Linked DNA regions of Homo sapiens: region 2 is linked to region 1. Evidence: fine-mapped expression QTL. A gene starts in region 1. The other region holds a variant in brackets. All regions are shown on one strand. Distances are from middle to middle.

The links. PIP is the estimated chance that this variant, and not a neighbour inherited with it, causes the effect.
Region 2: its variant is fine-mapped to the expression of C1QTNF7 in ovary (GTEx, PIP 0.98).

What each region holds. Positions count from the first base shown.
Region 1 is chr4:15,423,449-15,432,087 of GRCh38, forward strand. It overlaps C1QTNF7 (C1q and TNF related 7), which reads left to right and starts at 4,585. Exons shown (of 3, transcript NM_031911.5): 1 at 4,585-4,658. C1QTNF7-AS1 (C1QTNF7 antisense RNA 1) reads right to left here and starts at 4,466. Exons shown (of 6, transcript NR_125911.1): 1 at 4,381-4,466.
Region 2 is chr4:15,368,848-15,377,486 of GRCh38, forward strand. All of the region lies in intron 1 of C1QTNF7-AS1 (C1QTNF7 antisense RNA 1), which reads right to left. It also overlaps a transcript of C1QTNF7 not described here. Among named protein-coding and RNA genes, the nearest start is that of C1QTNF7-AS1, 55 kb to the right of the region's middle. The variant T/C (reference allele first, on the strand shown) is at 4,215.

The DNA.
Region 1 (8,639 bases):
TCTTTCCCTGCAATGAAAGCAGATTCAGTTTAGAAACCAAACTGAGTCATTTCAGCTGGTTGAAGTCCGCTTGAAAAGCCAGGAAAGCGGCAGCAGGCACCACCTCTACCTGGTCAACAGCCTGGTTCATGAAATCCCACTCACAGCCCTTCTGAGGAACCTACTGACCCCAGGATAAGGACCAAAACCTCCCGTGGCCAACAGAGCCCCGCCTGGCCCAGGCACATCCTCCCTGCAGGCTTATGCCTGCCTTTGCTCTTTCCCACTGGCCTCCACTCAGCATCATCCTCTTCCACCTCAGGGCCTTTGCATATGACATTCTCTCAGCCTGGATGTGTTTTCCTGCCCTTCTGCCAGGTTCATGCCTACCGTTTCCCCCCCTTTTAGGTCAGATGTCATTCCTTTAGGCAAGTTCTCTCTTATTTAGGCAAGTTCTTTAGGCAAGATTCAACTGGGTTGTCCGGCTAAACACTCCACAATATCCTTTATTTTTTTCCTTCAAGCATTCTCCAAAACTTATTGAGTTTATCAAATGGTATTAACTGTCCTTAATATGAAATGAATAAAAAATAACCTCATTTTTCTTCCATCATTTGTTCTAGCCAAATTCTGTTGGATCTTTCTTCCCTGCCCTTTTATGACATCTCAGGCAAATTTCTTGGCTTTCTGGTAACTTCCAGTTACATGAACAATTTTATTAGTCAATTGTGACTCATTTTCAGATATTAAAAAGACAAATCTCAATCAAATTTTCTATTTTATATCCAATACAATACTTGTCCATCTCCATGGCTGTAGTTCAGGATATGCTGTACCCTTTCACTCTTCCCCCATCTCCTGCCACTTCCTTTCACTTTCAGCTCCTCTTGAGTCAGGTCAGAGAGTAGAATAATCAGGAAAAAAGTGACTGAATTATTCTTACTTAGTAAGTGCTACTTGTATGATCCTCTCCTGGCTCCAATGTCTGCTATGCACTCCAGGTAGCCAAATGCTGGCTCTTTCGGGGTGAAGGTGTTCCTTGGTTGATAGCTTGCAGTGCTCCCCCCACCAGCCTCAGATTCTGTACTCAGTGATACACCCAGTGACTTCTTAGTGGCCTCCCCCCACTAGGAGGACTCCTTGGCTCAGGAAGTCCCATCACGATGGCCCCACTCAGCTGCCTTCCTCAGTACCATCTCCCTCTTGGGGAGTGCATATATTCTTGCCTCTCTAACAGCTGCCCCTGCACTCCTCTCCCTTCTCCACAACTCTACCTTGATGCCTCTCTTCAACCACTAATCTTTTCTGAATTTCTAGCTTTCTTTTATGTGGACTGAAAATGGCTGATGGTCACTGTCAGATCCAGCTGGATTTTAACAAGTTCTAAGTCGATGTATGAGCATTGGTTGCCTATCATTCTCTGCTTTGTGTTCTCAGCTGAAATTCCAAGTGGATGGGAATTCCCAATTCATATCCTGTTAAGCACAGTTCTGTGATTATTTCATAAATATCTCTCTTCCTCACTAGATTTTGTCTCTACAAGGTCTCTTTGTTTGCTCTCTACTGAATACCCAGACCAAGCATTCAGCATCTGACATATAGTAGCAGCTAAATAAATAAGTGATGAAGTAATAAATAAAAGAACAGGATGAGACACAAAGAAGACCAGATTTGTATCACTACAACTCCCCGGTTTGTAAGGACAAGCAGATAAGGCATCATTTGAGCAAGAGTAGATAAGGCAAAGATTCCTAGAGCCTGGCTGCCCATTGGAATCACCCATAGAGCTTTTAAAAAATATTAATGCCTAACTTAATCTACTGATATGCTCATTCAGTAGATCTAGTTAAGAGCCAGTGAGCTAAAGTGCATGGCAGATCCAAATTACGTGCTAGAAGGGTTCAGGAGAAGACAGGGTTGTGCCTGCTTGAGAATATCAGGGAGACTTTCTGTAGAAAGTGATGCATACAGAAGATAAATGTGAACAGATGGAGAAAGAGGCATAGGGGAGACATGGTTGGTAATGGCTTGCAGCTACTGGAGATGATATAAGCAAGGCACTGAGGTTACAAAGAGAAGATTCAATTCCTAACAGAACCCAGGGCACCCATGGAGAGGAGGAGGAAGAAACAGAGGGTATGCAACTGCAAGTTGTTTGGATGCAAAAACATGGTCTTTTAAAGTTAGCAACAACCTAGGGAGGAAATATGGTAAGTAGTTAGGTGTGTCAATTGTGGATCAGACTGTCTAAATTACTCATCTGTAGAAGGAGGATAATACAATTACTCACCTCAAGAGGTTATGATGAGGATTAAAGAAAGTGATGCTTGTCATGTCTTAGCACGTTGTACATGCTCATTACATATCAGCTAGAACCTTCTTTTTAAAATACTTCTACCACCTAGAAAAATGGTGTGTGAGTGTGTGTGTATGTATGTGTGTAGTGGTGAGCAGAGCTGGCTTATACCTGCCAGCAAGTGCGAATTCTACAATTCTACATTCTATAACTTTCCAACTCTGCATTCAGTGAAGGTCAGATTGTTAGCTTGAAATTGACCATGGCGGGGGTATTCACTCCAAGAAAACTAACAAAAGCTACAAATCTGAACCTTCTTTTTGAGAGCTAGGTTAGCGGCAAACTGTTAGGTGCTCTGGGAACACTGATGGGATTGGAATGGAATGGAATGAATTCAGTTGAAAAGTAAATAAAGGATATGGGGTAAAAAAGAGCACAAGTTGAGAAAGGAAGATTATCTGCCTAGGAAAGACAAAATAAGACCCCGTCCTTGGGGTGAGTGGCAGGTAAAAATGGAATCTGACTTTTACTCTGAGCCAATACTTCCTTAAGCATATTTTTCTACCCATCACTTCACCACTGCTTCTAAGTGTGAAAATAACTGAGTGAAATAGACACTGACAAGCTTTATCAACATCTGAGGTTCTGAACACTCTCAGAGACATTTTCAAAGGTTCATTCTCTCTGGGAAAAAGAATGAGTTCAGAAAGACACAGATTACAATAAATTATCTGGGATGAAAATAATAAAGAAGAAAAAGAAGAAATTCAATTTTTATTGAAGAACAGAAAAAATACTGTAATACTTTAATGATACAAAAAACCTTATTTTATGTGGTAAGTAACATTAAAGAGAAATTAGAGAAGTTGTGAATGACACAGAAAAGAAAATATGAATATCCACAAATTGTATCAACACTTTAAGGCAGAAAAATAAGAATGCATCTATTCTTTTATTGGTCTACAAATTCATCCACTTCTGAGCTCCCTGGCAGAGACTGGGCTACTCCAAAGCAGACATAATGGAAAAAGCCCACTTAAGAAGTTATCACTTATAAACAAATAAATGAACATATTAAAAGGCTGTATCACCTGAAATTAAGCTTGTAAATGGGTGACATCAGACACCATCATTTGGTTCGAGAATATTAAGAACTATGAGAAACCCTGGAAATAATCAAGGACAACCATCTTATTTTGAAAGTGAGAAAACAGACACAGAGACTTTATCTGATTAAAATCTGACTCTAATTTAGCAATAAGTTATGACTAGCTTCTATGCTCAAGACATTGTTTTGACCATCCTATGATGGCATTAAGATTTTGGAAAGCCAACAAATTCAAAGGACCATTTCCTCCAGTGTGGAGAGTGGATCCCAAAGGCAAAATTAAGCTGGTCAGAACGGGGAGCCCAGCAATCTCGTTGGTCAAGTGTGTGGTCAACATCCACTTCACTAACTCTGGAAACATTCCTTTCAATTAGAGTTCTCATTGCTTGAGAAGAATGAGAGGAAAAGAAAGATAAAAACAAGATTTTTTTCAGTCGTCTAATTTCCATAAATGACATCATAAATTATATATTGCTGTTGCCAAGGAAATATAAGAAATACATAGCAGAAGGAAACAAAGAAATTGATTGCACCATAGACGACTAGTCATATGCTTTGGAGAATCATTCTGCCTTTTGAGATGTTATGATCAGTTCTTTACAGGCACAAAGACATATTAGTTTTCTAAAAATACCCAATCATTTATCCATTCAGCAAAGAACAAAGAAAACAAAATCAGTGCAATTCTCATAACCCTCTTTCTTTGCACAGCACATAGAATGAGGGGCTATTTTCCTGCCATATTTACCAAGAATAGGGACAGTGTTCATTATTCCACAAGACACCATCCTAGGTCCAGAATCTAAAGGCTCTACCTCCAAAACTCTCAAATATAAAATGGCTTTTTTCTCTAAGTTAACAACTAATTTCCAGTCAGTGAGTAATTTTTTTCCTGAAACATTCACTCAGTGGAAAACAAATGAAGAGGGAAAAAATTAAGTAAACAAATCTGAAAAAGAGGCCACAACACACAGAGATGGAGAAGCTCTAAACTTACCACTGAAGGAAAGCAGGCACTTAAAGTTTATCCCAAACAAAACTGTAATTTTAACTGGTCCCCGAGTTGAGCCTCACTCGATGAATGACTTCCAGGGCCTTTGGCTCTTTGGGACTAAACGAGAAAATTATTTTTAGCACAACTATTTGGAAATCTTTGAGAATTTGGATCTGTTATTCTGTCTGGTACCAAAGCAAGTTTTTCACTGAGCTCTCATGAAAGATCCTCAGTCTCTTGTGGATTTAGAATCCTGCAGCAGCCCACCATCTAAGAGCAAGGTATGGTGTTTACTCTTTTTTTTAGAATTTTGGCAAATGTAGATGCAATGGCCTGTTCTCGTGACGGGAGCTTTTTAGCTTATTAAACAGATGGCTCTGTAGGAAGAATCCATAAAACTGAAGACCTAGCTTCAAGTCTCTGGACTGACACTAGCTTTCTAACCATAGACAAGTTGCGGGACTTCTCAGGACCTTGGTTCCCCATCTAACCTACCACAAGATGGTTTTGGGGAGGACGATATGGGCTTAGCATTGCTCTCTAGGATATAAAATGTTTTGCAAATGTCAGGGTTTTTTTTAATCACTGTGCCATAAAGTAGTCAAAACTTTATCAATAATGAACTGTTGACAATAATAAATATTGATGAATTTTTTTTTCTTCATTGAGCCTCTACTGTAGACTAGTCTCTGTCCTAGAGTTTGCATTTTAGTGGGGAAACAAGCAAGTCAATAGATAGCCATAACACAGTGCAATTGTGTGGCCTTGCAGGGACTTGAGTAGTGCCAGGAGGAGAAGGAGGTTAATTCATGGCAAACAGGAAAAGCAGTTCTGCAGAGGAAAATTGGAGCCCCCAAAAGCAAAGAACTGGTGAACAACAACATAAAAGGAACTGAGGCATGAGCAGCTCAGGTCTCCATCCTGTCCCAATCACAGTGCCACTCCCAGTGCAACAAGAGAAACACAGAGCTTGCTGTTGTGAAATCTCCACCTCTGCAGGCCAAGAAAATGTCCCGTTTTGGCTTTTCCTGGTTACCTATTCTCTTCTTAATGATTTCCAGGCAAAGCACATTTTCAACTTGAATTAATTATCAAGTCCAGCCCTTTGTCATGAAGTAATATGTTATAGTTTCCCTCACATGATGTAGGGACAAACTCAAGTGTTTGAAGACAAAAGAACTCAGTACAAATTCTGGCTGCACCATTTCATGCCTGTGTGGACTTGAGCCCACAGAGTATCAATGTTCTTACTTATAAAGTGAAGGTAATAGCACTTACTTCATAACAAGTGGTGTGAGGATAAAGTAAAAGATGTCCTTAAAACACCTGGCACAGAAATAAGAATACTGGGCTCTCCCTGCATTCCAATTCATTTTTATTCAGTTTTTTTAATTATGGTAAAATATACATATCATAAAATTTACCATTTCAACCATTCTTATGTGTACGGTTCTGCAGCATTAAATACATTCATTTTGTTATGCAGTATCATCACCATCTCTCCAGGACTTCTTCGTCTTCCCAAACTGAAACTCTCTATACCCATGAAACCATAAATTCCCATTCCCCTCTTCCCTTCCTCCTCCAACAGTGAGTATTCTACTTTCAGTCTTGATGAATGTGACTACTCTAGGAACTTTGTGTAAGAGGAATCACACAATATTTGTCCTTTTGTGACTGGCTTATTTCACATAATATACTGTCTTCAGGGTTCCTCATGTTGTAGCATGTGTCAGTATCTCCTTTCCTTTTAAGGCTGAAGAAGATTCCATTGTACGTGTAGACCAGGTTTTGTTTATCCATTCACCTTTCCATGGACACTTGGGTTGCTTCCACCTTTTGCCTATTGTGAATAACGCTGCAGATATGGCTATGCAAATATCTGTTTGAGTCCTTGCTGCTACGAACATGCATGTGCAAATATTTGTTTGAGTCCCTGATTTTACTTCTTTTGGATATATGCCCCAAAGTGGAATTGCCATATCATATGGTAATTCTCTTTAATTTTTTTGAGGAATCACTATCCTGTTTTCCACAGGCGCTGCACCATTTTACATTCCCACCACCAACATATTTTATTTTTCCAAGAAAAAAATATACTTGGAGTCTACTTACACTGGGGAAAAAATAATATGCTATTTACAAAGGGATCTCAATCTATGAACATGTTTTCCAGGATTTCAATCTTTGTACTGAGTTAATCAGTATTTCTCCAAGTATTTTCCATGGCTAGTTTAGCGAGAACAAAGGGCTCCATGACTAAATAAATTCACAAAATACTATATACAACATTTCTGCCTCAAATATAAGCACATGAACATGGAGCCTCTTGAATCTAAACTAACACAAATTAAATTTTTTAAATGTGTTTTAAAAACAAAAACCTGTTACTTTGTAATCCCTACAGAAAAATAGGATGGAGGATTATTTATAATTAGCATCCAGGACAGACGTGTTCAAGATTAACAGTATTTCCAGGTTGGGCGTGGCAGCTCACTCTTGAAACCCCAGCACTTTGGGAGGGCGAGGTGGGCAGATCGCTTGAGTTTAGGAGTTCAAGACCAACCTGGGTAACTTGGTGAAACCTCATCTCTCTAAAAAATACAAAAGTTAGCCAGGTGTGGTGGCACACACTTGTAGTCCCAGCTACTCATGAATTCAATTCAATGTTTTAAAGCATATTGTATGTGGAGTGACAGCTAAGGGGTACAGGTTTCTTTTTGGAGTTTTAAAATAGTCTTTAATTGGATTGTGATGTACATTAAGTTGTACACTTTGGTAAATTTTATGGTGTGCAAATTATATCCTTATAAAGCTGTTAAAAATTATTGTAATGTTTATGAAATTGTGACCTACGTGATTTATTCCCAGTCAAAATAATCAAGTTCACTGCAAGGCAGTGGGGGAGTGGGTAAAGAGTGGATTATTCAATAAAAGGAGTTGAAAATATAAAGTTATATCCCTACCTCACACTTTTTATCAGAAACATTCTGATGGAACAAATTTTTAAATGTGAAAAAATGAAACAAAAAAATTGAAAGAAAAGCACAAGGATTCTTTTCAGGACCTTAAAGTGGTGAAGGCCTTCTAAACCCAATAAATTGAACCTCAAAAAATATTTTCATGGTAAAAATATTTTAAAATACATGAGGAAAGACAAAGGACAAACTGGGGGAAATTATTTGCTGCTCATGTCATAAGCCATTTGTAGATTAAGATAGATAGATGATAGATAGATAGATAGATAGATAGATAGATAGATAGATAGATAGATAGATAGATTCATTGCACCATTGCTTATAACAGCAAAAGAAAGAAAATAGTCCAAATACCCATCATAGGAAACTGGTTAAATATTACAAACACATCTATATGATGGATTTTTTTAGCCACTAAATAAAAAAGGACAAGACAGCTCTACACATATAGGTGTCAATACAGAAGCTATAAATACTCATATGGAAACTAAGTGAAAAGGCAACGTACAGAACATTGTATATGGGATGCCAACATGGGGAAGGAGGACACTCAAGAAACTCGCACAGGTGATCAGCTCTAGGGAGGGAACCTGGGTATCCAGAAGACTCAAAGGGAGGTGAAGAAATTGACTTATCGTTGCATACTCTTTTTTCTTTTGAATTTTATGAAATGTACATGTATTCCCTATATAAAAAATTAATTTTAAAATATTTTTAAACACCCTAGACTATGTCAAATTAAAACAACTCAAGTTTTGTATTTGTATTTCTCAAACACTGCAAAAAGGACACATAGGCTCCAGGGAGATTTCTTCAAACCCCACCTCCCTCTTTCTTGTGTAATATTCTCATATTTCATAATTTCTCACCAGTTTTTTTCCCCCACAAAGCTCAAACCTCCCCACAAAATTCTCCTCTTTCTCCAGCCATGTTTTTTGGGTTAAGCCCTGCTGTAAGTGGTTGGACACATCAATGACTTCAACAAAGATCCCTGCCCTCATGTAGCTTACATTCTATCAGGAAAAATATAGATATAAAATAAAGATAGGAATTAGCTACTGAGTTAGAAGTGAAAAGTACAATAAAGAATAGAAAAAATGTAGAGCAGATAAAAGGAAGGTCATGGGCAGAAGAAGGCAGATTGCAGTGTTAAGCACGGTGATAAGGGTTGAACTTAGTGACAAGATGCCATTTGAGCAACGATGTGAAGAGGGAGATGAAGAAGTAGCTATATAGACATCTTGGTGAAGAGGGATTTAGACAATGCGAAGAGACACGTGAGAC
Region 2 (8,639 bases), 55 kb before region 1:
TTGCAAGTAGCAAAGACTTGCAGAGTTCTTTAGGGCAGATGGTTCATTTATTCTGGGAAAGCCAACCAAATGGTGAATGTAAAGCGAAGATCATTTTCTGAAATATGTGGTTTTAAGTTGTTACACTGTCTTGGAGAAAATGATGTAAAAAAGAAAAAAATTGAGTTACAGCCAGGGACCATCTCTGCAGGCTAGGATATTTTGAGAGGAAATATGTCTTAATTAGGAAGGGACAAAGAACATGTCATAGTGTTCATTTCCCTCGGCTTCTTCAGACCAGATTTTGATCGCTTGTGGTTAGTGAGTCAGAGGTAAGGATGAGAAGGGAAAGAAACAAAATATTTTAGCAAAATTTTGAGAGTCTCTGCACACAAGTTGTGCTGATTAAGGCTCAAGTGAGAAAACAGCCCAGAATTAGGGAGAGGCAAGTCTCTCCTTCCTCTGCAGGGAAACCAGCATCACTTTAGATTTTAGAGGGTTTTTAAACATTCTGTTTTCTGATTATTTTGATATATAGGAAGGCTACTTTCATGTATGTATTTTTGTATCTATAAACTCTGTTAAACATATATTATTTCTAATGGCCCTTGTTAAATTTGCTGCATTGTTTAGGTGTATAGTTTTATTATCTTCAAGAATGATAGCTTAGCCTCCTCCTATCCATCAGCTACATCTGTTATTGTTTGTTTCCTGCCTTATCATATATAAATTATTTTACCATTATTTAAGAATGATTTAAAAAGTTTTGCATTTTTAATCTACTACAGTAAGAATGACTTTGAAAACTGAGCAATTAACAGCCCAACGAATAGCTAAAAATCTTTTGTGGTAACTTACATATAATGTAATGATACACTGGGAATGCCTTTGTAATCCTGTGATGAAAACAATGGGAAAGAAGGCCTGTGAAGTTGTATCAGTCAGTGATATTTCAGTTGAATACATTAATGAAGATAATGGAAGGTAAGCACCATAATTTGACTGCAAGACTTCAAATGTGAGATAACACCAAGAAAGTATTAACCACCTCAGTCAGCATTCAGTTAAGAAAATAGCATCAGGTAGAGATTTAAGACAAGAAATTAAAGTCTTAAAGAGCCATTTAAAGAACTGTAAAGAATCTATACATGAGATCATATTGTATTCAACTATACTGAACTATGCAACACACAAGTAAATCTACATAAAAACTGGTAAAAACTGAAGAAGGTCTGTAGTCTGCCTAATACTATTGTACTCATGTCGATTTTTTTTAATTCTATGATTATTATAGTGATATAAGATGTCACCATTTGAAGAGGCTAGGGTATTTTTGTAAATTTTTTTGTAACCTCTTATGAGTCTATAAATATTTCTAAATAAAAAATAATTGTTTAAAAGGGGTTCATGGGACCAACAACTGGCGAAAAAAAGCATTCTGTTTGGCTATAAACTGAGAAGAACAAGCTTGCTGGGAAGCCATAGGAAAGTGTGAGATTCTAGGATCTCACCCAGAAGTTCCTGCAAACCATACATCAGCTGGCTGTTTCCACTCTGTAACTGACACCAAAGAATAATGTTCTCTAATTATTTTGTATCTTTCACAACCCTGTGTGTGCCCTCCTTGGCTGGCTGTAATTAGGAACTCTGCCTACAAGTGATTCTGGGAAATGTAGTTCCAGGCTTCCAGTCTCTGTTCCCTCAGAGAGAGAGAGAGTGGAAAGGGCCAGGGATGGTGCTGAGTTGAAAACATACATCCCAACTCACTCATATTCAACAGATACTATAAACTTACATTCTAGCCTTTGAAAGGAGATTATAAGAAGGAAATTAATCAAAACTTTAGGTTTATAAATAAAAGAAATTTATAAATAGTTCCATTTCCCAGCATGGTTTCTTAGCCTAATATTCTAGTTATCTTCATCCAAAAGAATTTGTAATAAAAATATTTTCGTAGGATTTTTTTCCAGTTTATAAAGCAATTCCACATGTACTCTCTCATTGGCCCTCCAAACAATTTTGAGAAATAGATAATAATGGAAACACTTAAGATTTATCTGATACTTTCATTTCTACTATCACATTTCCTATTGTAACTCACCAACAAAACTAGGCTTCTTGAGGTTCCCTAAACACAACATGCTGTCATTCCGTTTCTTTGCACATGTGGTTCCTTCAACTGAAAATGTCTTTCCCTGGTAGGAATTCCTCCTAGTTCCTACACATCTTCACGCCCTGTCCCGTCAGCTCTTTCTAGGAAGAGACTGAGGCTGTTGGGGTATGAACAGGCAGCTCCATCCTGCAGAGGGCCAGGCTGTGCTGCCCTTGCAGGAACCCAGGCATTGACCAGCAGACAGCAGATGCGACCCAAGATCCGCTCCTCAAGCTGCCTCTCTCCACATTAACAACCTCATTCTTGATTAGCCAAACCTAGCAAAATCGACAGGGGAAGAATGCATTTGGTGGTACACAGAGGGCTTAATAAAGGGGCCTCATTAGACTGTTCTTGGGCGTATGCTTGCTAGTCATACTGCTGCAGAAGAATTTTGAAGGGCCTTTCTTCTACTATTTATTTTCCCCGGCTTGCCCCTGTCTAATCCTCCCTTGCTCCTCTGTAGCTTTTCATGTTAGTGTCCTAATGGCTGGACATATCTTAGTGAGCAAAGCATCCCTGGCTTCAGGGAGCTTACAGACTGGTGAGGGAGACAACCATTATGCAAATTATCTTAGAAATATATACCTATTGCTATAACCACTACAATAATAAAATGACACTTATGACATCCTATGAAAGGAGAAAAAATTATAAAGGGGAAGTGTAGGACAGTATAAGAGAATATAGCGAGGAAGAGCAAGGGTGCGGAGGGTCAGATTAAAGAAAACATCCCGGGGAAGAAGCATGTGAGTTCAGTTTGAACTAATGAAGGGACTTATTAACATGAAGGGGGCTGGGAGGGATGCAGGAAGAGAACATTCCAGGCAAACTCTCTACAGCTGTCAATCTAAGCTCAGTGGGCACATGGAGGGAATCCCCATGGCTTCCTTCTCATGGTGCTCTGGGTAACAATGTCTTGCCTCCAGGCAACTCAATAGGAAAGAGTAGGAAAGGAAAGGAAAGGGTCACAGCTCAGAATCTCGGAGAAAAGAGGAGGTGGAGGCAGAATGTGTCATGAGGGGAGCAGGGTTCTTGTCGTCATGGTTTACATTTGGTCACTGCTGCTTACTAGCTTTGTGACCTTAGAAAAGTCACTACCAAGATATCAATGTTGTTTTGACAATTCAGTGAGGGAAAAAAAAAGGCTCAATAAGTATTCGTTCCCTTCTTTTACTTCCCGCAGGCTTGCTATGGACTGAATTGTGTCACCCCAAAATTCATGTGTTGAAGCTTTAACCCCTATTACGGCTTTATCAGGAGATAGAGGCGTTCATAGCTAATCCAACTTAAATGAGGTCATAGGATGGGTCCATAATCCAATAGGACTATGGTCTCTTAAGAAAAGGAAGAGAAAGATCTCCCTCTGCCCACCATATGAGGACACAGAAGGGAGGCAGCCATCTGCAAGTCAAGAAGAGAAGCCTCACCAGAATCCAACCACGCTGGCACCCAGATCTCAGACTTCCAGACTCCAGAACTGTGAGAAAATACATTTCTGTTGTTTATGCCACCCAGTCTATGGTATTTTGTTATGGCAGCCCAAGCAAGACTCTACTAGAAAATTCTTCTTACAGATGATAGAGTGCAAATCTTAAATAACATTCAAATAATAAATTAATAAAAGGGTAAGATAGTGAATGGAACCATAAAATATGAGTTGGACTTGTGACTTGATCATTTTCAAGGGGGCGCTGATCTTGATTCATTTGATCTTTGTTCATGGCTACTTCAAAAATAAAGACATTCCCATTTGTGTCAAGATACCGTGGATGCCTTTCTGTGTGACTGAACAAAATATTTTCTCTTTGTTCTTCATTCTTAACATTACATGAAAAATGGAAGGACAATTTGAGTCCTAAGAAAGAAAACCAATAGCAGCAAGCATGGGAGACAAGTACCAAGAGGTGGATAACAAGGGAAAAAAGATGAAATACACTCCTAAAAGGAAAAGGGGGAAAAAAAGTCAAGGCAGAACCCAGGAGCCCTGGCACCTAGTGGTGTCAGCCAATGACACAGATGAAATGGGCAATGGTAGTTGCACATCCCGCTGGAAAATACCACTGTCTCAGCCCATTAGTAC[T/C]GCTATAACAAAATACCACAGACTAAGTAATTTATAAACAACAGAAATTTATTTCTGACAGTTCTAGAGGCTGGGATATCCAAGATCAAGGTGCCAACAGGTTTAAGGCCTGGTGAGGGCTCTGTCTCTGCTTCCAAGATGGCACCTTGTTGCTAAGTCCTCCAGAGGGACAAATGCTATGTCCACACATGACAGAAGGGTAGAGGGCAAAAAGGGCTTAGCTATCTCCTTCCAGCCCTTGTACAAGGTCATGAATCCCATTCACGAGAGCCCTGCCATTGTGACCTAATGACCTCCTAAATGCTCCACCTCTTAATATTATCACATTGGATCTTAGGTTCCAACGTATGAATTTGTGGGGAAACACGTATATTCAAACCATGGCAACTACTTTATAGTTTCAAAGCCTAAAACATTGCAAAGCACTATCTTGATAAACACCTCATTTGATTCTAACCACAACAAAATGAGGTAAGTGCAATGGGACAGGGATCACATACCCAGTGAGTCAACTGTGTTTTGGAACGTTTAAATGACTCCACAGGGCTCCCTTGGCTGTTAAGTGTTCCAGGCAGTGGCCAAGCCTTGATTTTCTATTTCTAGATCTAGTGTTCTTTCTGAGGCACATGTTAAGATATGCTGTATATGCTGTATACCCTTTCATCTAATCTTGACCTGGATTTCCAAGGTAAAATTTTCTCCATATTCTATCTCATTTCCTGGCCACTATACTCCTCCTTCTCCATCCAAAAGTCACTCAATGGTTTCTTTCAGTCAGAAAATAACACCGAATGGAAAATGAGAATGGAAAGGAGAAGAGAAGCATGTAAATGGGGCTGTGACGACAAAATTTCATCTTAGGATACAATTGCTTTCATCCTGGACAAAATGCTTTCAGAGAGATTACCACATTGTATGACCAAGCAAGGGTTACTATTACGATTTTCATTCTGCAGCTGTGAAAATCAAGACTCAGAAACATTAAGGGCCATGTCCAGTGATAGGTATCTTAAAAGATCGAGAGTCAGATCTCCAGCCCTTGCATCTGCCTCCACCTCCCTACAGTGGACACAGCACTGGCTTGACAGTCGGCTCTTAGGTTCCTGTCCTTCCACTAACTAGCTGTGTGATGCTGGTCAAGTCTTGTAAGCCCTGGGCATCGTTTCTTTCTACTGTCAACCGAAGGGGCTGGGCTGCTTGGTCTCTAAGAACATCCTGTAAAGTAGCTGATAAGAAAGAAATTGCAACTGCTGGTCTTTGAAGACCAGTCAGAGGTGCCCTGATCTCTCCCAGCACAACAATGAGAAGGTGTTCAGCTAATATCACACTTTTAGAAAAAATATTGTCCAGACTCACTGTGCTATTTCCCAAATATGATTTGGGGAGCGAGCCAACAGATAAAGAAGGATATTTATTTTTGTTTGTAATGTCGACGTCTTCTTTCGGGCTCGATCAAACAATCAGGAGATCTGTGTAGGCCACAGCGTCATTGCACGCCGGGGTCCTTGCCCGCTCCCTCTCTCTGCCACCGCTCAAAGCCTGGGAGAACGCTTTTGAAAGCGAATCAGGAAATTACTTATCAATCTGAAGCCCCAAAGAATTATGAATAATCCTCGCTGCCAAAGGGAAGGGGATTTTGAGCAAAAGCTCCACATCTGCGCACACTAGAGTTCAAAGACTCCAGCTGTTGGAAGGTCTTGTGAGCAATGTAAGTAAACAGCCCTCTCTCCATTGATAAACGTCTTCAGGCTTTTTTTCCTTAGAAAGGCGTCTTTTGGCTCATGTTGGTGTTTCTCTCTCTCTCTCTCTCTTTTTTTTTATGATGTTCAGGGGTGTTTACCGACTGGGGCTTAGTCAATAACACAACTCCTCTGGGGGTTGCTTCTGCTGAACAAGAGAGGGAAAGCGAAAGTCGTCAGAATCGGCTTTGCTTGGGAAGGGTTAGTTTTGAAAAGCCCTTCCTTGCCAATTATGCTCCTTCATAGCTATAGATCCATACTCAAGAGGAGTGTGAGGCTGACACCGACACTCGCGGGGGCAAGCAGAAGTGTCTCTGTAACCCTACTCTGAAAAACAGAATTGTCATCGTGTCCATTCCTACATAATTCACATTGAAGGTGCTTTCTTCATTTTGATACACTGTAGGATTTTAGTAGAGGAAAAAGAAAGCATTAAAGTGAATATTGTTCTGTGGAGATTTCCTTATAGTGGCATAAATTCTGTGTTCAATTTAGCATTCATTAAGGGTGTTGATTTATTTACTGTCTATTTTATTATTAAACGAATGTGCTTACCACTCCACTTGGCCATGGGAGGATAATGCAATCATTGCAATATGGAAGCAGAAATATCTAAATTGTGTTGGTAAAACTATGAGTTTGCATTAATAGTAATTCTATAAATGGAATGCATAATTTCATAAATGATGCATTGTACTGGGGTACATTTCTTTTATAAGTATTTCAAATCAAATTGTGGGTAATGACTGGGAAGTAGTTAAAAGAAATACAACAAACTTGAACGGAATCGTTTTGTTTGGATCAGCCTTTGTCCTCAGGAACTTGAATGTCCATTTTGCAAGTCCCTCATCATGAATTCTATGGCTGCAAGGAACATATGTCCCGAGTCCTCACACTCTGTCTTATCATCAGACTATGTATCTCCCAATTTGTTCTGATTCATGATTTCAATAAGACCCCACACCCTCAGCCTGGGTTGTGTTCCCCCAACTCACTGGAAAGCTCCTCCAAAATAAATAATAATTGCCCTTAACTCTAGTTGACATCTGACTTCCTTTCCTCTCTTTGAGTAATTTTGGTGTGTACTTCCACATCCTGTACTGTTAAGACGGGTTTCATTTCCAGTATGTCAGTCATTGTCAGCACACACATAAGCTGCTTCCAAGAGTCGAAAGGCTCTAGGTTACTGTACATTTATAACAGCAATTTTCTATGTAGCCCTTTCTCAAGCAACTCATCTATACTTTTATTCTAAGGTGATCTGTAACCTTTCACCTTTACCTAATAAACAGATAGTATGTGCCTAATGTGCTGAAAGCAATAAAAACCAAATGTGACACAATGTTCCCCTTCTTGTATAAACATGTCTGTAGTTTTTATGCAGCCCAAGTGCACTTTTGTGTTCACGGGCAATAGCTAAATAGGGTTGAACACTGACTGTCTGAGCTGTGCAGTGGACTGCGTAACGAAATAGAAGGATGAAGTTTGTAATGTGAAAGTAAGTTATTCAAATTTGGGGAAATATTTACTGAGCATTTGTCGTGTGCTGGGCCCTTCCTAAACATGCCTTGTGCACTCGTGGGAGCAGCAGGCTCACTAGTAAGGTGTAGAGACTCTGAAGCAGAGTTCCTGGAGACACAAACCAGATTGGCATCTGTGTGAATCTGGGTTGGGTTACTTAACTCCTCTGTGCCTCAGTTCCCTTACAATAAAATAGAGCTCATAACAGCAGGGTTCATGTAAAGTTTGAGAGTTGATATAGACAAAGTATTGTTTTTGTCTCTTTCATATATGAGAAAACCAAGGCTAGCGAGGTTTACTTGCCTACAATTACACAGGTAATGATGGCTGGCAGGGCTGGGATTTGGAAGTAAATGAGTGTTTTAATCATAATAGAGAAAGTCCACATTTTAAACCACAGCCTCCTGCCCTTTTGTTGTTGGATTCTTTCTTCTGCATTCCTTTATCCAGTTCTTACAATGGCCTTCTAAATAAACATTATTGACTGTGATGATTTCAGACGAGTAAACTGAAGCTCAAAGACATGAAGTGACTCATCCAAAGTCACATACCTAGAAATTAGCAGCACTGATGTCTGAACACAGGTTTTCAAATTCCAAGTTTTGTGCATATTTTTTCTTTCTCTTGCCAATCTGTGAATGAATGGGTCAGGCCCACACCTGCCCTTTGGGGAAGAGTGAAATAAATAACAATGCTAATGGTCACCATCAATTAAGCCCTCACTCTGTGCTTGGCACAGAATCTCTTTAATTAAAGTAGGTCCCTGTGCCCCTTTGTTAATAAATTATCTAGATGATTCTGGTATATACTAAAGTTTGACAGTTCTATAATCTGGGACAAAATGGAAATTGTTATATCCAATATGACCTAACCTGAAGAAGGTGAAAAGTCCTGATAGAGATGAGAAATTTGACATTTTCCCCAACTCAAATTTGTGGATTACCCTGTGGTCAGAATCAACACTATTTCAGGGTTATTTCCTATCTTGTTGATACCCCCGTGCTTTCTTCAACTTTTGGCCCATGTCATCTGAACTTTCTATCATCTTTGATTGCATCAGGTTTCAATCATCAGCAGATGGGTGGATTTCTTTCTCTGGTAGGCTTTTCATGGCAAATTTGTGCAACTCAATAGGATTCATCATCAAATTGAAATAAAGCTATAA